Linked DNA regions of Homo sapiens. The protein of the gene in region 3 interacts with the protein of the main gene of each other region in a pairwise test. Each region holds a gene or a part of one and is shown on either strand. Other genes may lie near its edges. The genes, in order: ATP23, PRDM6, TSSK3 and LHX3.

Region 1 (7,763 bases), on a different chromosome or scaffold from region 3:
GGTTTTAAGTGTTAGCAGGCAGTTTCAGCAGCCAGGCCTGTAGAGAATTATATTTTTCAAGTGATATTTGTGACCTGAATGTTTTTTCCCTCTGGCCTCTCCACTCTTTAACTGGTATGACAAAAGTGACCCGATTTATATGATCAACTTTCACAGCTGACAGGTGGTAAACTCTTTACAATTATATGTAATTTATTTGTTACTGTGATAGATTTATACAATTTTAAATAATTTAGTTCCCATTAAAAAAGCAATTATTTTTGCTTTAGAAAATGAAGGCCAAAAAAACCCCCAAAACACAAAACCTCCAAATCCTACCCATTTAAGGACAACCAATGTGAATACTTTGTAGGAGTCTTCCAGACCCTTTCTATGAATTATAGTAAGTACAAATTCAAAATGGAATCATACTGTATATGCTAGTTTGGAACTTAAAAAACTTTTTTTTTTTTGAGACAAAGTTACTGTGTTGCCCAGGCTGCAGTGTAGTGGCCCGATCTCGGCTTACTGCAACCTCTCCACCACCTGGGCTCAAGCAATTCTCCTGCCTCAGTCTCCTGAGTAGCTTGGGATTATAGGCGGCGCCACCACACCCAGCTAATTTTTGTATTTTTAGTAGAGATGAGGTTTCACCATGTTGGTCAGGCTGGTCTCGAACTCCTCATCCCAAGTGATCTGCCTTCCTCGGTCTCCCAAAGTGCTGGGATTACAGGCATGAGCCACCCGCGCCCAGCCTGAATTTTTTTTTTTTTTGAGCTGTTGTCTTGCTCTGTCGCCCAGGCTGGAGTGCAGTGGCGCGATCCCAGCTCACTGAGGCAGGAGAATTGCTTGAACCCAGGAGGCAGAGGTTGCAGTGAGCCGGGATGGCGCCACTGCACTCCAGCCTGGGCGACAGAGCAAGACTCTGGCTCAAAAAACAAAAAAACAAAAAAACAAAACAAAACACCCAAAAACTTTTAATGAACATATTTTGTTTAAAAAAGACACTTAACATGGTTGTATATATTCCATTATACCTCTTGTTGGATATTTAAACAATTGATGTCTTCCCCTGCCGCCCCTTTTTTTTGAGGAGGAGGTGTCTTGCTGTATCACACAGGCTGGTCTTGAACTTCTGGGCTCAGGCAGTCCTCCTGCCTTAGCCTCCCAAATAGCTATGATTACATGCCACTGGCCTGGCCATTTTTGCTCTCAATTAGTGCTGCAATGGAGAAATGAAAATCCTTATAGCTAAATCTTTGCCCTTGCTCTAATTTCTTTGTGGTAATTCTTTTTCTTTTTAAAACTCATTTGTATTTGCTGTTCATTATCTCTTCCTTAATGTGTTTTTATTCCATACCTATGTCTTTATACTGTATACAGATGAAGTTACACATGGCATCCAAAGCCCACTTGATTTTTTAAAGTTTATTTTTCTGATTATAAAGGTAATACATGCTTATTGAGGAACATTAGAAAATTTCAGGAGAATGTAACAAAAAAATTCCAATACCTAGACAACCATTGATACTGTGGTATGAATTTTTTTCCATCTGTTTCTTCAACAATGAGTATTGAAACAGTTTTAGCTAATTTAGTAAGGAAATGTTGCAGCTTTTGGTTTGTACGTTTTTACTTATTCCTGTAGCTGAAGGGTATTGCAAATAGTATCCAGAAATAAAGCCACATACCTACAACCAACTGATCTTAGACAATGACAACAAAAACATATAATGGGAAAAGACACTCTATTTAATAAATGGTGCTACACAAAGTGGATAGACATGCAGAGGAATGAAACTGCACCCCTTTCTTTCACCATATACCAAAATTAACTCAAGATGAATTAGAGTTAAATTTAAGACCTGAAACAATAAAAACCCTAGAAGAAAACCTAGGAAAAACTCTTGTGGAGATTGACCTAGGCAAATAATTTATGAGCAAGTCCTCAAAAGCAAATGCAACAAAAACAAAAACAGACAAATGAGTTTCATTAAGCTAAAAAGCTTCTGCATAGTAAGATAAAGAATCAAATAACCTACAGAATGGAAGAACATATTTACAAACTGTGCATCCAACAAAGGACTAATATCCAGAATCTACAAGGAACTCAACCAGAAAAAACTAAATAACCCTATTCAAAAGTGGGCAAAAGACAGGAATAGACATTTCTCAAAAGAAGACATACAAGTGGCTAATAAACATGATAAACTTCTCAACATCACTAATCATCAGAGAAATGCAGATTAAAACCACGGTGAGATACCATCTTGCACCAGTCAGAATGACTATTATTAAAAAGTCAAAAAACAACCCGATATTGATGAGAATTCAGAAAAAAGAGATTGCCTATACACTGTTGGTGGGAATGTAAATTAGTACAACCTCTGTGGAAACTAGTATGGAGATTTCTCAAAGAACTAAAAATAGAACTACCATTTGACCCAGCAATCTCACTACTGGCTACCCAAAGGAAAACAAATTGTGACTGGGTGTGGTGGCTCATGCTTGTAATCCTAGAGCTTTGGGAGGCTGAGGCAGGAGGATCACTTGATGCCAGGAGTTTGAGACCAGCCTGAGCAATATAGCAAAAAACCTCCATCTCTACAAAAAATTAAAAAGTTAACCAGACATGATGGTGCATGCCAGTAGTTCTAGCTACTCGAGAGACTGAGGTGGTAGGATTGCTTAAGCCCAAGAATTCAAGGCTGTGGTGAGCTATGATTACGCCACTGCACTCCAGCCTGGGTGACAGAGCAAGAACCTGTCTCTGAAAAAGAAAAAAAAAAGAAGAAATTGTTATGACAAAAAGACAAAGACATAGAATCAACCATTAACCTAAGTGTCCACCAACAGATGGTTAAAGAAAATGTGGTTATGCATACACCACGGAATACTATGCAGCCATAAAAATAATGAAATCATGTCTTTTGCAGCAACATGGATGGAGCTGGGGGCCATTATCCTAAGTGAAATAACTCAGAAGCAGAAAATCAAACACCCCATGTTCTCACTTATAAGTGGAAGCTAAAGACTGAGTGCACGTGGACATACAGAGGGGAATAATAGACACTGGGGACTCCAAAAGTGGGGAGAGTGGGAGGGGAAGGGTGAGGGTTGAAAAATTAACTATTGGGTACAATGTTCACTGTTTGGGTGATGGGTACACTAGAAGCCCAGACCTCACCACTACACAATATATCTGTATAATAAACCTACACATAAACCACCTGAATCTATGTATTAAAAAAGAAAGCATGAAAAAAATCCAAATAGTATTTCAAATGTATATAGGCTATGGTCCATTTCTAGGCATATCTAGCCTGCCTTCAGTATTCCAAACTAATCACACTGAATTGTAATGGCTTAGTTTTCCATATGTGTGTTTTAGTTCAATAACTGGATTGAAAGCTAGTTGTGTGGTCCTAGATAAATTATTGAATTTTGCTGAGCCCACTTTATCTGCAAATTAGAGATAATACTTACTTTGCAGGGTTGTAGTGAGGATTGGAAATAATGTATCCAAGGTGAATTTAATTAAAAAGTAGTTACTTTTTTTTTGACTTCTGGCTTTAATAGTCTATGTACATAGGAGTTGTTTGTATTTTTATAATATTCCAGATGAATGACTATCCTAGCATCCCACTCAATTTAGATATTGAGCATCTATGACACATAAAGCACTGTTCATAACCCTAAAGGCCTGCTGAGCCTATATTTTTCAGATATGTTTCTTACATAAACCACATGCTGCTCTTCATCTTTAGCAATTTTCTTAGTCATGTGTTTCCTCAGTCTCTTACACCTTGCCTGGCCCATCATAGTAGGTGCTGAATAAATGTGTGAGCTGAGTGGAATAATTTAGTAGGAAAAGAGAAACACACAAATTGGATAAAACCTGGCAGGCTACGATGAAAATGATTAACAGGTACAAAGTGCTTTGTACATTGGGAGATCAGGAGACATTAATTTTGATTAAGGTATCTGGGAATGCCCTGTGGAGTAGGCAGATTTGACCTGGGCCCCAATCATAGGGGCTGAGGCAAGGAGCTTAAAGATGGAAATGACAGTATGAGTTAAGGCTGAGAGGTAGAAGTAAACAGGGTGCGCTTTGTTATCAGGGAGTTATTGGTGGGGGGTGGGGCAGAAGAGTAGGGTAAACGAATGGGTACAGGTGGGAAGAAAAAATGTAGTTGGTTCCTACATTTTGAGGATTTTGATGTGACTAGTCATTCTTTATAGTTTTAAAACGTTTCTGAAAAACACTGCTTTCAATATGGCCAGAGGCATCTTTGGGCAGAGTGGATCTGAGGGATGGCAGGGGTCGGGAAAGTGGCGGGCCAGAAATGACAACTGGCTTGCCCCGGAAGAAGGCAGGGAGTGGGAGGATGGCCGAGACCTTCGGCGGCACAAGAGCAGTTAGTGGCCAATATTCGCCCCGAGGTGAGGAAGGAGTGTCTGCGAGGAGGCGGGACACCCTTAGAGCTCAGCAGGCAGCAGGAAGCTGCAGAACAACGCTTATAAAGACATGTCACCCACACTGGGAGGGCAGCAGCGAAATCCGCGGCAGCCGGGTTGTTACAGCCTTTGAGGGAAGTCGCAAGACCCAGCTCCGCCCAACAGCATCGGGCCCCGCGCCCCGCCCCATGCCCTCGCCCCGCCCCTCATCCCTCGCCCCGCCCCTCGCCTCTCGCCCCGCCCCTCGCCTCTCGCCCCGCCTCCCGCGCTCCCCGTCAGGTTCAAAGCCCCCTCCCGCCTAACGTCTTCAGCCCAGCCAGGCTGCCCTTCTTCCCTGCGGAGGGAGGGCCTGGGCGGTCGCGTTGGCGGGAGGGAGGTTACCTTTCCCAGTCTCGCTCTGGCCGCCTGAGCCAGGAGGAAGCAGCGGCGAGGTCTGCGGGAGGCATGGCGGGAGCTCCGGACGAGCGCCGGCGGGGCCCCGCGGCAGGGGAGCAGCTGCAGCAGCAACACGTCTCTTGCCAGGTCTTCCCCGAGCGTCTGGCCCAGGGGAATCCCCAGCAAGGGTTCTTCTCCAGCTTCTTCACCAGCAACCAGAAGTGCCAGCTTAGGCTCCTGAAGACGCTGGAGACAAGTAGGAGCCATGACCTGGAGGCTGTGGTTCCACAGAATGGGTCTGAGACCGGGTGGGCGAGGAAGGGCCTGGGCAACACCTGGCCAGGGGCTTCAGGTTCAGCACAGAGTCTAGACAGACTGGGCATCATGGGGGCTGGGTTGGGAGCCTGAGGCTCAGTTTCCCCACTAGAGGTGGCGCTGAGACCCTTTTCGTCGCTGTTTTTGGCTTGTGGAATGAATTTGTCTGCCCTTTTTTGTCACTCACTGTTGTGACAGATCCTCCGATTTCTTACATAAGTTATGCAGCCACACTGTGACTTCAGGGTAAGGGTGAGGCCAAGTTTTAAAGTGCCAGCCAGGTTAATTAAGGCACACAAAGGCTGTAAAAATGTAAAAATGTAATTAAGGCATACCAAGGCTGTAAAAATATAAAAGCAGTTTTGCAAACCTACCGTTCCTTGGAAGTGGTTCATGCATGAATGGGCTTCAGAGCGTAGAAATCCCTGAAATGGTCTGTGAAATCGTGTGTATGTGTGTGTGTGTGCCCCTAAGTGCATTTTTTTTTTTTTTTTGAGACGGAGTCTCGCTCTGTCGCCCAGGCTGGGGTGCAGTGGCGCGATCTTTGCTCACTGCAAGCTCCGCCTACTGGGTTCACGCCGTTCTCCTGCCTCAGCCTCCCGAGTAGCTGGGACTACAGGCGCTCGCCACCACACCCTGCTAATTTTTTGTATTTTTAGTAGAGACGGGTTTTCACCGTGTTAGCCAGGATGGTCTTGATCTCCTGACCTCGTGATCTGCCTGCCTCGGCCTCCCAAAGTGCTGGGATTACAGGCGTGAGTCACTGCGCCCGGCCCAAAGTGTATTTTTTTTTGGTCGGGGGAGAGAGTTAATAGCTTCATCATATTCTCAAAGAGGCCAACGACCCCACAAAGGTTAAGAACTGCTGTGGGTTAAACAGGGACACAACTGCCCATTGACAAATTTCTCTCCCGTCCCAGAGACATTGCACTAGAGAAGATTTCTTAATTCCTTTACATTGACATAGACTTCTTAAGTTTACTTTCAGATACATTCAGAAAATTAGTCTTAAACATACTTGTCCCAAAGCAAGGTTACTATTTCATAGCTAGTCAGTCACAGTTCAAAAGTCAACCACCGAAAGATTTTCCAACCTTCTTGGGATTACCTGCTTGTAGAGACTCAGGGAGGTAGGAGGAGGAAGGGGAGTTGAGGGTAAAAGGGGAGAGAATGATGATATTGTATTTACTGTACAAATATGTATTGAGTGCCTCCCAGGTTCTGGTGGGGGAAGTAGAAAGATGAGTTAGCACCCTGCCTTGAAGGTGCTTCAAAGTGGAATAGAGTGGAAAGAGTATGGGTTGCAGAGTTAGATGTGGGTTCAAATGCGGATCCCTTTCCTCAGGTGTGGAAGGTGACTTAACTTCTCTGATCCTCACTATCCTTATTGTAAAAAAAGAGAAGGGGAAAATACCTTTTTTAGGGTTGTTGTGAAGAATAGATTTTATGGGGCTGGGTACGGTGGCTCATGCCTGTAATCTCAGCACTTTGGGGAGCCAAGGCAGGGGGATTGCTTGAGCTCAGATGTTTAAGACCAGCCTGGGTAATATAGGGAGACCCTGTCTCTACAAAAAATAAAAAAAATTAGCTGGATGTGGTGGCTCATGCCTGCAGTCCCAACTATTTAGGAGGCTGAGGCAGGAGATTTGCTTGAACCCAGGAGGCTGAGGCTGCAGTGAGCTGTTATTGCATCACTGCACTCCAGCCTGGGCAACAGAGCGAGACCCTGTCTAAAAAAAAAAAAAGTACTGATTTTATGAATGTAAAGTACCAGCATATCAGGAGCTGAGCTGAATAAATGGTAGCTGTTTTTACAGTGGAAGGGCCACACAGTGGAGGAAGAGTGGAAATAGATAGGATGTGAGGAAGGTGGGGTGCTGAACATGAGCCCCAGTAGGAATCAATGGACCTTGATCTTCCAAGGGCAGGGTGGCTGGGAGGGTCTTTTGGTGGTATTAAAGTGTCAACCTGCAGCTTTAAAATGCTATCCCTGGGTGGGGCGTGGTGGTGGAAACCAGACCTCATGGGAGTCTCTTTTTTTTTTTTTTTTTTCACCAAAGCAATTTTATTCTAAATATTGCTGCAGGTCCTTTTTGAAGTACTAAACCATGGTTTTTTTTTTTTTTAAGTACAAGGACTACAGACTTTTGAAACTGTTTTAATTTTGTAAAATTCTCCTAGTTGCATGAATAATAATGTGCTTAATATGGTGCCTGCTACCTGGTATTCACTCAATAATACGTATTGTTAACAATAATTATTCTACTGTGAACACTCTTGCAAGGGGCAGGTTGGTAAAGCAGTAACCTATACCTGACTTTCTCATCTCACATTTCTTTTTCTCACCTATTTTTGCCTTCAACATTTTTTTTAAACCTTAGTTTCTTTTTCACTTTTTTTGGGTTACATCATATAATTGGCTGTGCATTTATATTCTCAGACAAGATGCCTATGTGAAAAGTTAATATCAGAGGCATTTGGGCTCCTTGTACTTTCCTGTAGTAGTCACGGGCCCATAGAGTCTTAGATGTGGAAGGGCCCTCAGGAATCGTCTAGGCCTCCCCGTCCCCTTACAGGGAAACCTCTGTGCTATTGCTGGCCAGATACTCTACAGACCTCTCCTGGAATACAGTTAC
Region 2 (4,557 bases), on a different chromosome or scaffold from region 3:
CACTCCAGCATCAGTGTCCTTCTTGCTATTCCTACATGCTCACATATTTTTTCTAAGTGAAATTTTATTTTCCAACAGAACAAGAGACAAACAGCTGACTTTGGCTTTCTTTCTGAGAGCCCCCAATCACATACATTCAGAAGAGTCATAGCCCCAGGCCACTCTCCGGGCAAGTGCTTTCTGCTGTGCTCCAAAGCTTATGGGGTTAGAGGTCAAATATCAAGTCCAGCCTGCCACAGATTTGTGGCTGGGTCTCTGCGCACAGTTTCCTTAAGAAGCTGTGCACCTGACTTGGTTGGGCAAATGAGCATGTGAGCACATGAATAAGGAAAACAGTAATCTCAAATGCATCCGAATAAACCTCAGGGCTGAATTTTAACAACCTTCCTGCTTGCTAGGTGTATTTTCTAGCTTATACTTCCCCAACAAGAGTTTGTTGACTGCCTACTACCTAAGCTGCACACTAGAATCAGATGGTGCTTGAAAAATGACTGTGGGACTGGAAAAGACAGAATCCAAGGGAAGATCGAGTCATCATAAAAACGTTTTATTAATCAAATATATTTACATTTCTTGGTCAATGATCTCTAAATGTGTACCTGTTTTTTCATTTAAATACAACTTAATCCTGGTAGATTCCATCACAAGAATACAGCAGCATGCATGATCTCATTGGTCCTTTGCAGTTATTTTTTCATTAAATAATGTGAGTTTAATAAAGTTAGAAAACTTTATTAAGTTTTACCCATTCTTACTGTGGGATAATCATTCTTGTCATATCAGTGGCCCTTACAGCAAACTACACACTCCTTATCACCCACAGTGAGATTCTTCTCATTCTCTTAACTGACTTGTTTAAGCTTTCCAAACTCCAAAAGGCAGATGTGAAACTGGGCATTCACTCTAACCATTTTATTTGGTGGAAAGTTGGAGAGAGACATATTTCTATTCCAGTAGGGAACATTTACAGTCCTAAACTTAAAATAACCACATTAAAGAAATGTATACAATGTCCTAATAGCATCTAAATATCACACTTCTATTAGCATCCTACAGAACTGGATGTCTTCCCCTTGATATAAAAAAAATAATTAACTTGGGACATTAAGTTTCCAAAATAATTTTGCTGATCTGAGCCAAAGTTTTCCTTAATTCGTTAGTCATCACCTTAGCCTCTGCATTTAAACTGGGGGAAGGCTTTTTCATGAAATACTTAGAACTGCTAAGGAGAATAATTTTGCCTCTGGCTTTTGCTATACATTTTCTCCAGGTTGGGAGAAACTAGAGAAGTGTACTAGATTGTTCAGAGAAAGTAAGTCTACAAGTGCTGATTTTGTTAACATTAGACAATGCCCACATGTGGATCAACAGGGACTGTGGGTTGGCAGACTTTTGCTCTAAGATGGCTGCTTTCCCCAACATGTGGCAATCACCTGATACGGCATAATTGCTTTTAAACATGAAAGAGTTGTGCTGTAGAAATAGATCTCCAGCTTGTTAAAGTTTATATCTAGACTGTTTTCAGTTGGGAGTGATGTACCAAAGTGGGAGAAAGGCACCAACAAGGATGTTTTTCAAGGCAGGAAACAGGAGATATCAACCAGGACCCACCATGTTTGACAAGGAAAATATATTTATCATTTCAACAAACAAATGTGCCCATTAGAATCAGAATCTGGAGGAAAGTAGTATACATTGTGGTTTCAATAAACCACGGTAAAGAGTTGTAATAAAGCCAGTTCATGATGAAATTTTGTACACTTACTTTTTGAACAAACCTCACAGTTTCATCTAGATTGTGCCCCAGAACTTGAACTGGTTCCTTGAGTACCTCATGCATGTAACTACACTATCTGTGCCTTTGACAAACCAAACCTATAATGACTCCAGTCTTTCTGCTGCACTGCTTTAAACCAACAGGCTAACAACATAAGCCCATATTCTTAATGCACACAACTGCGTAATGACTCCATTGATGCCTGGAAAGTAACTCACTTAGCATTCAGTCAGAACAAAGAAAGAAAACGAGATTTCACTTAGCCCCGTTGAGGATGTGTTTTTACCTGTCGATAGTGTTCGAACCTTATTCTCTTCTGGCCACCCTCCAACACAACCTGCCCTTCCTGCCTGTTGCCATTTGTCCTAATGTATATCACACTTGAGAGGGTTATTTTTTTTTCTTTCAATGTGGAATTTTAGATTCCTGCTTAGAAAAACAAAAACAATGCCTGACAGCAATGGAATAGTTGAAATTCTGTCCAGCAATGAGATTTGGGCATGACAAAATCAGCATCTATAATGATACGTGTTTTAATAGCACTTCAGTATTGTTTCCACAAACACATTTTATAAATAAATTATACTTGTGTTTATTAATTTTTAAAAGCTCTTGTTCTCAAAAAAAAGCTTTACATAGAGAAGTATTTTCCTCTTTTAACAATTGCCTGTTTATGGCTTTGAAGGAGGAAAAAAACTAAAGAAGCTACAAAGCTAAAACTGTTAAGCATATATGAGAAGGGGATAATGATAGTATCTTTGTTATAGAGTTACTAAGGATTAAAAGAGATAATCCACATTAAGCATTAGAACAAGGCATGGCAGTAATTGCACAATATAATTTATAATCATCATCATTCCCATCAACCTCTGTGGGAATAAGCGCAGAATGTCCTTATTTTTCCATTAAAATTTCCTCCATAGGTTTTCTAAGTGCAGTGGTGGCATATTCAGTCTATAGGAAAGACAATTCAAATGTTTCATGACTTTGACCTGTTTCCGACATATTTTTTGTTATCGTTTTACATATTGATCTGATGAAACATCTGGCATTTATTATTTAAAGGAAGAAACTAAATAAATATTTTAAATGTCAAACACAGCCATGGACTACAGGTTAAACATCTGTGGCAAGGTTTCCACAGATAAAGCAATATTCTTTTCAGTTTGGCTCTGTCTGGCCAGTTGTACCTGACAGCTGATCTCTGGGTTTGTAGAATGCAATCTTGGGGAGGGCTGAAATAGGTGCCTTCCTAGTAACCTGCGTTGTTGTTTTGTGGTAGTTCAGATAAATGCTAGTGAGGGGAGAACTTTAAACTTTGGGTTGATGATCACCCAGGTATCTAGTTAGCGCATAAAATTTTCCAAAGCTCTTCACCTTAAAAGGATCCTGACAAGTGAATAACATTTCTGGAACTTACAGTTATCATTTAAAGAAGCATATATCTCAGTATCTTTTAAAATCTGATGTCAGGATCTAGTAAAGACTCTGGGAAATAAAAATTAAATTCATGTCAAGGAAGAAACAGATAAACATTTCAGGAAATGTGATTATTTATTTCTTATTCCTGGCCTGGTTTCTGTAGGCATGCATAGCCTTAATATGAGAGCAATGAATTTGCTCCTAAACGCAGGCTGCTGGGTACACTCAGAGGGACCCGTTAACCCTGCTGTTCTGGAAATGCCCTCTTTGTGAGACGTGCCATGATTCCCATTTTAAACAACTCAATAGATACTTGCATTTTAAATTTTAAATTAGTGCAAAACAAATAATGTTACTTCTGCACACCGGGGAAAGGGACTACACTGCCAACGCTTACCACTAATGAGGCAACTCTGACCCATTCAGGGTCGCAGATCTCCTTCCCTGAGCAACTCCAGCCTTGTACCCAACTTGTTGCCTTATCATTGAAAGGGGGGGTCATAAAAACCCAAGACCCAGGCCCTAATCCTGGTCTCTTGATACTGCTGCTAACAACCAATAGCCCAGTGAGTTAAGCAAAGACAACCAAGTTGTGCATCTTAACTTGTTTTGCAATATGCTATTTTCTGGTCCCCAGATGAATTTACCTCTCTCAGATTTTCCCAGTTGGAACAAAATCTTTAACTTCACTGAGACAATGGTCTAAAGGACTAAAATACCCATTTTACTAGCAGCCACTTAGGAGGAGAATATTATTTTATCATGAATAGTCACTTAAATAATGCTGCTTATGGTGAACACATAAAATGGGGTCTTTATATAAAATAAGAGTTCAATAAATACTTGTTGAATAAATGAATGAAACAATGAACATCTGATTTAAAAATTGATGAACTGCTAAATGTTCGTATAAATCTTTGCATACCTGAACCAGAATGAAATTTTTACAAGGTAAAATTCAATTATGAGCCCTATGAGGACACAATGATGTCATGATCTTTTCCTGTTATACATAGTTTCCCAAGAAGGCTACATTTAAATGAACACAATAAAAAATGTACCAACTGAATCAAATTATATAAATTATATGAGATTAAGTTTCATAGCTTTAATTAGCCATACAATAACTTTTTAGAAGTATATCTCCTCCAAAAAAGTCATTTTTAAAGATAAAAACAAAACAAAAATGAAAAGCTTATCTATGAAAAATGTATGCACATATCCTGGGGAAAATACAACTTTGCCTTGGGATATTGAGATTTTTCTAGAAATGCAAAGGTCTGCAGCTCCATCTCTCATCCTATTGCACCCTGACTTTTCCCTGGCATTACCTTTCGTCTTAGACTCTGCTAAATAAA
Region 3 (7,150 bases):
ATTTTTATCCTCTCTTCCCCCTGTTTGTATATGATTCTTGGGTCTATTTTAATTAACTTTAGTATGAAAATCACTTGTCATGCCAGGCGCAGTGGCTCATGCCTGTAATCCCAACATTTTGGGAGGCCAAGGTGGGTGGATCACTAAGGTCAGGAGTTCCAGACCAGCCTGGCCAACATGGTGAAACCCCATCTCTACTAAAAATACAGAAATAGCCAGGCGTGGTGGGAGGTGCCTGTAATCCCAGCTACTGGGGAGGCTGAGGCAGGAGAATCGCTTGAACCTGGGAAGCAGAGTTGCAGTGAACTGGAATCGTGCCACTGCATTCCAGCCTGGGCGACAGAGCAAGACTCTTAAAAAAAAAAAAGGAAGTCTGAATGAGGCCCTTTGATTCCATGAAGATCTCTAAAAGGAAAGAGTAGTAGTAAGGCTGGGGTAGATGTAGGTAAGTTTTAGGATAAGTAAACTTAAAGCGTAAAATATATATCACCATTTTAGAAGCGGGTTTTTGGGTTTGCTTTCTCCCCCTACTTTATTGGAGAGCACTTGCCATTGCTTTTATCAAGTGCTTGCTAGCCATGGATGCCAACTAACTTCTTCAATTGAAGGCCGGAGGATCATATCGGGTTCCAGGAGCCTCTTGAGCAGGTCCTGGCAATCGGCCGAGATGCTCAGATGAGTGGGGAAGGACACCCCCTTCTGCTGCTGCCACAGCATCTTGGGGATGTCTGTGTCGTCAAAAGGTAGGCTGGCACAGAGCATGACATACAGGACCACACCCATGCTCCAGACATCACCTTTTTTGCTATCGTGGGGAATGCCCTGCAGCACCTCGGGGGCAGCATAGGCTGTACTGCCGCAGAAGGTCTGGCTCAGCTCCCGGTGTGACTTGGGCAACACCTTGGCAAAGCCAAAGTCAGTCAGCTTCAGGTTGAAGCCCTGCAACAAGGCGTTCTCACATTTGAGGTCCCGGTGGGCCACACCACAGCCATGGCAGTAGCGGATGGCCTCAACCATCTGACGGAAGAGGGCCTTGGCCCGGCTTTCAGGCAGTGGCCCCCCATTCAGCACGCAGTCAAAGACATCCCCTCCCTCAGCGAGCTCCATCACCAGGCAGATTTTCCCGTCGGCAGACTCCAGCATCTCATACACCTGGATGATGTTCTTGTGGTCCAGGGTACGGACGATTTGGAGCTCCCGAGGGAGGAATCTCTGGATAAACTCTGAGGAAGTAAGGGGAGGAGAGATGGGCTGGCAGATCAGAAAGGCCCACCTCCTCACACCTGTCTCCTGCCTTCCAACTTCTGCCCACCTTGTCTGGGTCTTATTTCTTGGCTTTCTTAATGGTCTTAAGTGTGTCTAGCTGCTTGGACATTGCAAAGAATGTTCACTTCTATTATTTTTGTCGTTAGTATATCATTCAAAAGAAGCACTCCCCACCAGCCTTGTGGACTGTTGTGAGCAGTCTGTGAGACTGGATATCAAGGTGCTTTAGGGACTTTTAGACAAAGCCACAGAATCACAAATTATAAGGCCTGATTTGTCCACAGGGTGGTGAGCCAGCTCCTCCCGCCACTGTCCCCTGACCCCACAATTCTTTCCATGAGCCCTGTCTTCCTTTTTCCCATCTCCACGGGCCTTGGCACCAGCCCCTGTTCTCTACCAGCCCTGGTTGTGGCCTCTGCCAGTCTCTGTTCCCCTGCCGGAAAGGAAAGCCTGGCTCAGGTTTTGCCTCTGAGGATCCTTCACCTCATGCCACTTTCATCTTGCATTCTGGGGGGGTGTAATGTTCCTGGACTCCCAGAACCCCTCTGTTCCCCACTGACCCACTCCAGAGCTGCCATCGGGCTTGCTTGGTTCCAGGCCAGCGGGAGCAGGGAATGATCGAATGATCGTTCTAACAAACAGGAGGAAGCACCCACCCACCTCAGCCAGTCCTCCCTCCTTCCCTCCAAAGGGGCCCCGGCTCACCTTCTGGCCCTCCCATCTTGTCTATAACTTTAATTGCCACTTTTCTTTGGTGTTTTTTGGAAAATGCTTCTTTGACTTTTGAGTAGGTCCCTTCCCCAATGGTCTTGCCCAGCTGGTACCCATTGGAGAGCAGAAAGTCCTCCATGCTGTCTAGCGCCGCCTTCCTATCACCCTCTCAGCTCATGCTGCCTCTGAGAGGCAGCTCTACTCCACCATCGCCCTTGGCCTGCTCCTTTTCTCCCCAAGGACTTCATCCGCAGCCGCCCCCAGCGTTAGAACATTCTCTGTCTGGACACAGCGGCGGGTGGTGGGGAGGGACAGGGCCAGACATTTTTAAACTCCGGTGCAATTGTGATGTAGATGCTGTGTGACCCTTGGCCAAAATGGGCAGTGCCCCTACCTGCCCTCACTACCACCACCAAACTCAGCCCGGATTAAGTCACCGCCGAGCCCGCCCCCGTGCCAGGCATTGAGTTGTAGTCCCGCCTGGGAGGGCGCTCCGCCGCGTCTGTGTGGACCGGGAATGCGCGGCTCCTCGGCGTGGACGCCGCCTCGCGGCGGGTTGCCCTGGCCTGCTGCGCCCCCCTCGGGTGTCCGGGGTCTGCGCGACCCCGTCTCCAGGCGCCATGGCCAGAGGCCTCCAGTCCCCGATTCTGGCCCGCGCTGAGTGCCAGGGGCGGCAGGGGGCACCGTTGGGGGTTCTCCAGTGGGAGGAACGTGCTCTGTGAGGTCAGCGCGCCGCGGCCCGGGTCACAATGCTGCCCTCCTCGACGCCCGGGCCCGGGCACGCCACAGAGACCTGCCCGGCTCCGCCTGGACCGGAGCGTTCTCCCGCGGCCAGGGCTCCGGCAGCTGCTTCTAGCCTGGGACCGGTCTCAACCGCCGGGAGGTGAGCGACGGCCCAGGGGGCGGGCGCGAGGCGGCGGCGCCCGGCGACCCGGGAGAGGCCTGACCGCCACTCCCCGCGCAGAGCGCCCCGGGGCTTGGACATGAGCGCCCAGGAGCCCCCGCAGGGTCGGAGATTCCCCATTGAGGCCGGAGACTCCCGTGGCCTTGCCGCCGCCCCCGAGTCCCAGGACAGCCCGGAGGCGGTAGCGACGGAGCACAACCCGGTCAGGTAAGGCCCGCGCCCCACCCCCGCCTCCGCCCGTCCCGCGGCCCCGCCCTCCGTCCCACTTGGCGCCCCCAGCAGTCAGGACCCCGCATCCACGTCCGGACCCCCGGGGACCCCAGGTGCACTCCCTGGGTGCGCCCCACAGGATGGGCCAAGCCCCTGCCTCAGCGGCCCCTGTCGCGCGTCAATTTCCCCAGGCCGCTTCGTCGCTGCCCTGGATGCCACTGCCTGACGCTGCTGCACGTGCCCATCGACGTCTACCTCGCCATGGGCGGGAGCCCCCGGGCCCGCGCCACGTGAGTGCGCCTGCTCCCTGCGGCTCCGCGGGAGCTGGGCGGGAACGAGGCCCCCAGCGGGCCACCACGCTGAGGTCGCATGCGCCGAGCACGAGACAATGATGCACATTTTAAAATAAAAGAATGATGCACATTTTAATAAAGCACAGCACAAACTGTTCTTTCCACTCCGGGCTGGCAGTGTATGTCTATCCGTCGGGCCCACCAGCTGCTCTGCCCAGTCCAATAACACTTTCCCTTCCGCAGCCTCCTCGTTTGGACCCAGCCTTAGGGGCCCGCCCTTCCGCCTTTCAACCTACGCCACTTCACTCCTCTCGTATCTTGCTGGTCCTGACCCCTCCTGGGCAGCCTTTCCCTTGGGCCCTGCCCTGGTCCATCTCTCTAACCCTCTGGTGATTCTCCGGTGAAATTCACATCACTGTGCTGGACCCTGGCAACCCACAGAAGCGGGGAACAGGAGGAAGAGGTGGACCGACAAGTAACATAGAATACAGCCATAGGCCACCCACACCAGGCTATCTATCTATCTTATCTATCTATCATCTATCTATCTATCTATCTATCTATCTATCTATCTATCTATCTATCTATGAGATGGAGTCTCGCTCTGTTTCCCAGGCTGGACTGCAGTGGCATGATCTCTGTTCACTGCAACCTCTGCCTCCCAGGTTCAAACAATTCTCCTGCCTCAGCCTCCCAAGTAGCTGGGACTACAGGCACCCGACCAGACCCATTTTAATCCTCTCGAGCGAGAAGTTCTGCGACAAAGTTCTGCGACTTGCTCTTTGTGGCCCTAGGTGCCTGGGACCTTCCTTATTGGAAGGGTTTGGAGCTGCCCCAGTCCATCCTGAGCCTTGGTTTCTCCCAGGACTGAAGTGATCATAAAAAGATTGGGGAAGAGGCCATTTGAAAAATGGTGGCTTGCCAGGCGCGGTGGCTCACGCCTGTAATCCCAGCACTTTGGGAGACCGAGGCAGGTGGATCACAAGGTCAGGAGTTCGAGACCAGCCTGGCCAACATGGCGAAACCCCGTCTCTACTAAAAATACAAAAATTAGCTGGGTGTGGTGGTACGCACCTGTAATCCCAGCCACTCGGGAGGCTGAGGCAGGAGAATTCCTTGAACCCAGGAGGCAGAGGTTGCAGTGAGCTGAGATCATGCCACTGCACTCCAGCCTGGGCAACAGAGCAAGACTCTATCCAAAAAAAAAAAAAAAAGAGAGAGAAAGAAAGACGTTGGTTTAACTTCCTATTTTACAGATGAGTGAACTGAGCCTTTGAGACTTACCCAAGGTCCCCCAATGAGAGTCTAGCACACTCCTCAGCATCCTGAGACCACATGACCTAAGATCTGCCCTCGGAGGGGCCCATGACAGGAAGCCTGCCTGGAGGTGCTAGTATTTAAGCTAAACAACTATTTCCTACTTTCCAATTTGGCTTTAATGAGCCCGTATATTCTACTTTCCAATTTTGTTACGGGGGGAGTGTAACCTAAAGGTCAGGTTCAGTCTCCTGTCCCCTGAGATCTAAGGACAATTGATTCAACACCCTCCTCTAATCCTCATAGGGTAGAGAAGTCCAAGCTTTCCCTAGAGCACCTTAAAATTCCACGTCACCCAAAAGGGATACCCTTCTCAGTTTCCACATAAAATGCTCTCCCAGGCAGTCCCCATGTAGGAGGCTTACTAAAAGGGCCTATTTCCTCACTGGTTTAAAAAAAAAAGGCATCAGCTGGTCTCTTTGGACTCTGCCAGCCCCCAAATAGTGAATCCTTCTCATTCTTCCTTTTTTTCCATCTCTCCCACTTCCTTCTCCTCTCTTCTCAACCCTCCTTTCCTTAAAAAAAAAAAAAAAATAGGCCAGGCATGGTGGCTCAGGCCTGTAATCCCAGCACTTTGGGAGGCTGAGGCAGGAGGATCACTTGAGCCCAGGAGTTCAAGACCAGCATGGAAAACAGCAAGATCCCATCTCTAAAAACAAAACAAAACAAAAAAACCAGGTATGGTGGCGTGTGCTTGTAGTCCTAGCTACCGGGGAGCCTGAGGCAGGAAGATTGCTTGAGCCCAGGAGTTTGACGCTGCAATGAGCCAAGGTCACACCACTGCACTCCAGCCTGAGCAACAGAGTGAGATCCTGTCTCTAAAAAAAATTAGGCTGGGCATGATGGATCACGCCTATAATCCCAGCACTTTGGGAGGCCGAGGCAGGTGGATCATGAGGTCAGGAGATGAAGACCATCCTGGCTAACATGGTGAAACCCCGTCTCTACTAAAAATACAAAAAAATTAGCCAGGCGTGGTGGCGGGAACCTGTAGTCCCAGCTACTCGGGAGGCTGAGGCAGGAGAATGGTGTGAACCCAGGAGGTGGAGCTTGCAGTGAGCTGAGATCGCACCACTGCACTCCAGCCTAGGTGACAGAGTGAGACTCCATCTCAAAAAAAAAAAAAAAATTTAGAAACCAGTTACTGCCACATCCCACGTACCTGATTTGTGAGGGATACAAAGATTCTAGACGCAGTCCTTGCCAATGGGGCTAGTTAGCTCTAGAATGTCCATGAGCAAGAGAAAGGGCATTCCCTTTGGGGAGGAAGCATTGTGGGTAAAGGCCTGGAGGCAGGAAAGTGAAGGACAATTTCAAGAAACTCAGTTCATCAATTTTCATCAACACCTTCCTGGGCCATGCCTGGTACTGAGAACCCAGCCCTGAATCTGACATCATTTTCCCTTTCAGAGCATAGAATGCAGGGGATCCAGGAATGGGTTAACAGAAGAGAAGCTGGATCAAGGAGACCTTTGCGTACCAGGTGAAGGAGTTTGAACTTTGTTCTGCAGGCAGGCAGAGCACGACAGGCTCCTACCTGGGTCACTTCATTCTCCTATTTCTCTTCTCTTCCATCCTGTTCTGTTTCTTCTTACTCCTTTCCACTGGAAGAGCCACTGGCCGAAACTAGTGCTGAGTTCAAGTCCTAACTCTGCTGTTTCTCTAACTGTGCAGTCTTGAGCTAGTTACTTAGCCCCTCTGAGCCTCCATCTTCAAATCTGTTAAGTAGGGCTAATTGACACCTGGTAGAAAGTTTCAGTAAGGACCTGTATGTATAGCACCATGCAGGAATCACTGCCAAAGCTACCACTTGATAAGCAAGAGAGACTGCTACGGCTGCTGCTCCTACCTTTGGCTTCAAGGGACAGCAGACAGCCAGACAGCCAAAGACACTGTCCCCAGGGGTTGGGTGATGTCCAGCCCTGAAGAGGGCTGAGGAAACCCTCTTGCCTCTCTCTGCCAACTTCCTAGCAGTTCTGTTCAGGAGCCTAAGAACTTGGTGGGGGGATTGGGGGCAGGGGAATTTCCAAGGGAATCCCCAGGTGGAAAAGACAGAGCTGCCTCCCTCACCCTAAAGGTTACATCTGTCCCCGGACCCCAGTGCAGGACCCAATGCAGATCCCAGCCTTACTCTCTGGGCCTGAGGAATGGGGAGGGGCCAGGCAAAGGGGGATGCTCCAATCACTGCCTTCCCTGACTTATTTCCCAGACACCTTATTAGCCAGCCCCTCCCTAAGGGACCCCCTTTTAGAAGGAGGGGGCGAAGTACAGATGGACCCCCCAGGTTACCATGGAGACAGCAGGGAAAGGGTTGCTGTATCACCATGGCAATAATCGACGTCAGCGCTACCCTTTCCCATCGCTTGATATGAGAGGGGGACAGCCACCCCAACCACAAGCAAATCCCCCACAAATCCTCCTCCTCTTACTGAGCCAATCAACCAGGGGG
Region 4 (6,410 bases), on a different chromosome or scaffold from region 3:
ACGGCGGCGGCGGGGTTGGGGGGGTTGGGGGGTGGGGACGGGGAAGCAGGGCTCAGAGGGTTCCAGCCCCCAGCCCAGGGTCACACAGCAAGTTAGAAGAGCCAGGATTGGAATCCAAGCTGGAGAGACTTCCATGACCATGAGCCTGGTCACCCTACCAGCCTATGTCCTGGGGTTGGTGCCAGCTGCAAGCTGTGAATGGCACACACGGCCCACCTCCCACCCCCATCATGCTCTCTGGACATCCCAACCCCTGCCTCTCCCAGGGACAGGGTGTGGAGACCGCAACCCCTCCCCTCCATCAGGAAGGGATGGGCTGTTCCCCCCACCTCCTTCCAGTGCTCATGAGCATGGCCAAGATCCAGGGATAAAGAGAGCCCAAATTCATACTAGGTGCCAGCCCAAGCAACGAACTAGGGGGACTCAGGGCCCCTCCAGGGCTGCCTCTCAACATTCACAGAATGTTCCCCACACCCAACACTCCCCAACCCCCGCAGCCTCAAAAAAACGCGGGCCTTCCATTGACTGTAACTGACAAATTTATTGAAGTCTTGGAAAGAGCTGATCACCCGAGAATAAATAAAAGACACAGAACATTCACAGAACCAATAGGTAGCTCGAGATTCAGGTTTGCGGGAGTGACTTTGACTTACACACAGGCCAGCCTTTGTGTCTGGGGCACGCACAGCTGCGGGCATCTCCCAGAAACTTCTTCCCAAAGGATCTGATGGAGGAGGCAGGGCAGGCTCAGAGGAGCCCCACCCTTCTCCAGCGGGGAGACTTCCCAATCTGGGGCTGGCAGAGCCGGCTCCGGCAGGGAGGGCAGGCTGTTTGGCAACAGACATCTGTGGGTGCAGCCTGGACACCAAGGGCCTGGGGTGGGGTGAGGAGGAGACCCTGAGGGGCTTAGAGAATTGAGCTTGGAGAGAAGGGGCGCCAGGCATTTTTGCCTCCTCCACAGGATACTCGAGAACAGAATGATCTAGAGACCTGGGGATTGGGGAAAGCTTCTCCCGGGGAAGGTGGGGCTGGAGGCAGAGAGGCCCCCTGTGGTCTGGGGAGAGGAGGGGGCCTCTCCCGGAGGACACAGGTGTGTCCCCGCCTCTGCAGCCTCTTGCCTCGACAGGCAAGGCCAATCTCCGACCTAAAGAGGGAGCCTCGGGGTGACGGCTCCAAGACACATGGAGCCTGGGAAGTGAAAGCACAATTATGATGATTTCTCAGTTTTAGAGATGAAAGCGTTTTTCCAGCCCTCGGGCTATGCTGGGCTGGGCTGGGCCTCAGCAAGGTGACATTTCATGTCTAGAAATAGCAGCAAGTGCTCAGTTAATTGGTCAATAAAGGGGAGAAATTTGCTTACAAAAAAGGCTGGCTTGCTGGGAGGCCACCTGGCGGGCCAGCCCTGTGTCAGAGGAGGGGCCAGGTGGGTCCCTCAGCCCCCAGAGAGGGAGCTGTGCGGTCGGCAGTGGGAGGCTCCGAAGGCACCAGCCCTCCCTTGACGCCCTGGCCCCACTTCCTCGGAAACCCCAGCAGCCCCGAGCCGCCCACCCAGGGGCAGCTCCCTCGTGTGAGGTGCAGGGTGGAGCCGGGCCTGGGTCAGAACTGAGCGTGGTCTACCTCATCCAGCCAGGAGGCGGGGCTGGCAGGGAAGTCGGGGTAACCCCCGCTGCTCCCCGTGGATAGGTCAGAACTGGGTCCGTTCCCTGCCAGCACCCTCATGGGTGGGGGCCCGCCGGGGGCTCCCGAGGGCACAAGGCCCAAGCTGGTGTCTGGGTACACCAGGCTGGAGAGGAGGGGCTGGGGGCCAGGGAGGCTCTGCGGGGCGGCGGGGGATGGGGGGACACCGTAGGGGCTGCCGGGACGCAGCTCTCGGTACTGCTCTGGGCCTGCCAGGCCTCCATGCTCCAGGGAGAAGTTGCCCAGGGCTCCCGAGGGCCGGCCCAAGGCCTGGGTGGGTTCCCCCAAGCTCCCGTAGAGGCCATTGGCCGGGCCCATTTCCGCCAAGGAAGGCTCATCTGCAACAGAAGCAGAGGCTCAGTCAGCGCCTGCCCTCCACCTGCGGCCCCTCAGAGTCCCATCCTGCAGGCGGAGGCACCCCTGGGTCGGAGAAAGAGTGGCTGCCCCACACCACATGACAGGTCATAACAGGCCCCTTCTACTGTTGGAGCATGGCTGCCCCTGCCCCTCCACTGCCCTCACCCCTGAGTCAGCCCAGGTGTCTCAGGCCTGGTGGGATCAGAGTCAGGAACAGCCCAGCCAGGGCCCAGGCTTTCAGGACCAGCCCCACAGCAGCCTAGGAAGGGGGCACAGATACCACCACCCACATTTTGCAGACAAGGATATTTAGTTCCAGAGTGGCTGAGTGAGTAGCCCGGGTCACGAGGCAGCCCAAAAGAGAGTGTCTTGTCCACATTCTGAGGATGGGCATCAACAGATGGGGACGCAGCATCCCCGGTGCCCGGAGAATGAAATAAATAATCCAGGCCCCACAGAAGGGTATGGAACCTTCTCTCCCTGACCCCAGGTAGCCCCCTCCCCCAACTCCAAGCAGCTGGGACTTCGACTCAGTCTTTCCCGAAATGCACTGCCCATTCTCCTAAAAATCACTGCAAGGGCTAGGAGCCAGAGAGACGGCCTGGACACGCCCACCCCCCCATGAGAAAGCCCGTAGGCGCCCAGCTTGGGGACAGGTCGGGCCACAGGGATTGTGTCCCCACCAGGGGAAAAGCAGTGGTCCGGAGTGGCCACCCAGGGCGGGGAGGGTGCTGGGGGAGCAGGTTCTGTAAGTGAAATGCTTTTGAAAGTAGAACTTAAGGAGTCCACTAACTCCATGGGAAATTCAGATCCGCGGGCTCCCTGGGACCCCTGCGACCCCGCCGACGCGCGCTCGTCCCCCCCCGAGCTCCGCGATCCCTCCGCCTACCGGGGAAGGAGACCTCAGCGTCGCTGTCCTGCCCCTCCTGAACGCTGTCCTTGTCCGACTTGGAGCCGCCGCGGGAGCGCTTCATGTTGCGGAAATACTGCCCCCAGCGCTGCCGGCCGGCGTCCTTCTTCAGCCTCTTCTCCTTGGCCCGGCGGTTCTGGAACCAAACCTGGGGGCGGGGCGGGGTGAGCGGCCGCCCGGCTCTGCGGGGGCCCCCAAGGCCGCGGGCGGGAGGGAAGCAGGGGCGAGCGCTGACCTGCACCACGCGCATGTCCAGGCCCGTCTCGGACGAGAGCTGCTCGCGCACGTGGCGCGCCGGCTTGGGCGAGGTGTTGTAAGCGCTCTTCAGCGTCTCCAGCTGCTTGGCGGTGATGGTCGTGCGCGGCCGCTTGGCCGTGGCCTCGGCCTCTGCGCGGCGGGCGAGCGGTGAGGCGCGGCAGCCCCTCCGGCCCCGGCCGGACCCCCAGCCCTCCCACCCCGGCCGGCGCGGGGACGTCGGGGCCTCAGGTGCCCACCCCCATCCCGCCCCACAGGCTTCTCGGAAGGCGCGGGCGCTGGGAGCGATTGGCAAAAACGGGCAGCACCCGGGCTGGGGTGGAGGGGGCGCCGGCGGAGGGCGGGTTCTGCCGCGGGGGCGGGGGCGGCGCCTTCCCTAAAATCGCACCTCCACGGCGCCCCCGCCTTCAGCCTTGGCTCCCTTCTCCAAGCACCCTGATTTCCCCGCGGGCTCCCCTTTATTCTAAGGGTGTGGGTATGGCCCAGCCTTCGCGGCCAAGAATTTAGGGCGATAATTCCGACCAGGGGCGAAAAGCCGCACACTTCGGACCGAACGAAGCGGTTCGGGACGCGGGTCTGTCCGTGACTCCGCCGTTCCCGGCCTCGGCTTCCTGCTGCCTACACCGCCCTAGCCCAGGCCCCCTTAGTGAGCGCTTGGGGAGAGAATTTCCCCGGACGCCCCCCTGGGCGTGGCCTCAGCCCCATTTTTTTCAGACCAGGAAAGGTGGGAGCGTCGTCCCCTCGGCTGACCTCGCTGCTTGGCGGTTTCGTAGTCCGCCTTGCACACGAGCCGGCTGTCCTCCATGAGGTAGAACTCGTCGCCCGTGGCCAGCTGCCGCTTGCACACGACGCAGGCAAAGCAGTGCAGGTGGTACACGAAGTCCTGGGCGCGGCGCACCACCTGCGTGGGCGGGATGCCCAGCTGGCACGCGGCGCACTTGGTCCCGAAGCGCCTGCGGGACGCACAGGGCCGGGCTCAGCGCGGAAGCGCGAGGCTCATTTCGCCCCGAGCGGGTTGGAGAGAGGCAAGCGGCTGCCTGGGAAGGCGGCCCCGGAGGAAGGCTCTGTCCGGCCCTGCAGGGTGGTCGCCAGCCTGGCCGCCGGGGCAGAGCTGCCCACTCCCACTGAGAAGGGAACCTCAATCTCAGAAAGACCTCGGGGAGCCCAGCCGCCATTGCCTGCAGGACCCATGCTGGATCTGGGAAGGTGAATCCGGAGGGAGAGGACCCATCTGGGGCCAGTCCCTCACACCCCACAGCTGGAGCCATGAAGGCCACTGGGCCAGAGCCGCTGGGTGCCAGCATTAGGAACTAAAACATCACCAATTTCGGAGGAACTAAGTCCAGTAGAATCCTACAAATAGGGGTGTATCTTCTCTAATGACTGCTTCTGTGATTTAGGTAATAAATTGCTTTTTTTTCCAAATAATACTTGCTGATGTCCCAGCCAGGCCCAGCCACCCAGGGAGCACCCATGGAGAGGCCCCACCCTTAATTTGGCCAGGCCACAGGGTGCCCTGCCTGGGTGACAGGAGTGGGCTGGGATTGCGAGAGACGCAGGCTTCGAGGGCCTGGCCTTGGTGATTGTGAGGGGAGGAGTCCCTGGGGCAGGCGTGCCCTCCGCTCCCACACTGAGGTGAGGTTTCGGGGCTCACTTGAAAAAGTCGTCCTTGCAGTAAACGCTCTCCCCTCGGCTGAAGCAGCGCTCGGCCAGTGGCGTGTGGCAGTCGCTGCACTTGAGACACTTGCTGTGCCAGTGGCGGTCCAGAGCCTTGAGGATGAAGCGGTCCAGGATGTGCTGGTCACAGCCAGCGCACAGCGGGATCTCTGTGGGCACGAGGAAGTTCTGGGTCACCTCGTAGACCAGGAGGCAGTGAAGCCACCTTCCCACCCCAACGCGAGCCAGTCTCCCCTCCGGCCCACAGGACTCAGGGCTGCCGAGGGGTCCTCCTTTCCCTACACACCCTCTTCCCCAGCCAGCTTAAGTGGCCCCGCAAGTTCCGGGAGTGTGCAGGCACCGCATCCTATGTCAGGAGCTAAGGGGAAACTGACATCGGTCTAAAAATGTGTGTGAGCAAGAAAGCAGCCCAGGCCATTTCACGAGGCTGAATACTCAATTACAAAATGTTGCCAGTGCCAAGAAGGGTGCATGTGGAGCTCAAATGAAAACCCCACCCCAGGGGGATCTGCTCTCTGAAGCCCGGCAGGAAACATAGGGAAACGGGTCTTCACCATCACCTGGAGCTGGGGCACCCCATCGGGTCTCCTTCATGTTAAGCGTCATGGCCACTCTTTCTAGGGACTCCTCGCAAATGTGGCTGCCCTGCCTGGTGGCCCTGTCTGCAGGCCTCCGGGGTAAATATCAATGCCTTCCCCATCATTGGGCAGCCGCAAAATTACTTATGAGTGGACTGGACAAGCCGATCCACTGCCTTTGTGTCAGGCGTGGGTGCCCCCAACACCGTCAGAGTTACTCAAACGTCTGGCTTCCCGCTGCTTCTGCCCCCCACACCCCACTTCGGTACTGCAGGCCCCCTGGAGGAACCACACTGGGGAGGTCCAAGGGTGCCCTGTGGGAGCCTCGAGTCTGTGAGCGGGTTTTCCAGGTGTCAAGGGCTGAGGACTCCCTCTTCACTTAGAAAAAGTCTCTGGAAGAGAGGAGTGCCCGCTGAAGGGACCGGGATTTACTGACATATTGCACCCGCCTCCCTGGCTGTGGACCCCGCCGGCTCCAGCCCATCTCCCAGTGGGTGAGAGACACCAGGAAGGGGCTCCCTCGACCTCCGGCGGAAAAAACTGGGCTGCGCCTCCCCACGCAGTGGCGGGAAACCGGCGATGAATGCGCCCCGCATCCGGCAAAACCGCAGCTCCGGGTGCGGAGCGTCGAGGACCCGCTGCGCGCCCGGGGTCCCCATCGTGGGCAGCGATCGCAGGCGAGGACCCGGCTCGGAGCGGGGCGGCCCGACAGGCCGACACAGCGCGGATTCAGCACCGCGGACCGGACAGCGCCTCGGCCGCAGCTCGCCGCCGGCGCCCGCGTCGGGCAAAAGCCGCCCCAGCCCACCCCGCGCCGCGCCCGCGACCCCAGCCTTACGCTGCATGGCGACTCCAGCCCTGGCGGGGGCTCCTGTGTCAGGGATGGCGGGGTCGGCGGAGCCTGGACGCCAGCCCGCCCGCTCCGGCCAGCTCTCCCGAGCGCGGGCGCGCAGTCC

The links.
Region 1: the proteins of TSSK3 (region 3) and ATP23 interact in binary tests that used the Homo sapiens proteins (3 or more experiments, as listed by UniProt).
Region 2: the proteins of TSSK3 (region 3) and PRDM6 interact in binary tests that used the Homo sapiens proteins (3 or more experiments, as listed by UniProt).
Region 4: the proteins of TSSK3 (region 3) and LHX3 interact in binary tests that used the Homo sapiens proteins (3 or more experiments, as listed by UniProt).

The regions. Positions count from the first base shown.
Region 1 is NC_000012.12:57,936,821-57,944,583, forward strand, and holds the start of ATP23 (mitochondrial inner membrane protease ATP23 homolog), read left to right. Parts: upstream 1-4,746; 5' UTR 4,747-4,881; coding exon 4,882-5,068; exon of another isoform or gene 5,069-5,077; coding exon of another isoform or gene 5,078-5,108; intron 5,109-7,763.
Region 2 is NC_000005.10:123,190,236-123,194,792, reverse strand, and holds the end of PRDM6 (putative histone-lysine N-methyltransferase PRDM6), read right to left. Parts: 3' UTR 527-4,557; downstream 1-526. UniProt on the Homo sapiens protein: Putative histone methyltransferase that acts as a transcriptional repressor of smooth muscle gene expression.
Region 3 is NC_000001.11:32,357,668-32,364,817, reverse strand, and holds TSSK3 (testis-specific serine/threonine-protein kinase 3), read right to left. Parts: upstream 2,280-7,150; 5' UTR 2,117-2,279; coding exon 1,972-2,116; intron 1,224-1,971; coding exon 562-1,223; 3' UTR 506-561; downstream 1-505. Other genes in the region: protein FAM229A, read left to right, coding at 2,727-2,860, 2,942-3,088, 3,283-3,385. UniProt on the Homo sapiens protein: Serine/threonine protein kinase required for spermatid development and male fertility.
Region 4 is NC_000009.12:136,195,729-136,202,138, forward strand, and holds the end of LHX3 (LIM/homeobox protein Lhx3), read right to left. Parts: intron 6,300-6,410; coding exon of another isoform or gene 6,293-6,299; intron 5,947-6,292; exon of another isoform or gene 5,483-5,946; coding exon of another isoform or gene 5,437-5,482; intron 5,026-5,436; coding exon 4,854-5,025; intron 4,153-4,853; coding exon 3,950-4,152; intron 3,332-3,949; coding exon 3,180-3,331; intron 3,093-3,179; coding exon 2,924-3,092; intron 2,016-2,923; coding exon 1,597-2,015; 3' UTR 522-1,596; downstream 1-521. UniProt on the Homo sapiens protein: Transcription factor.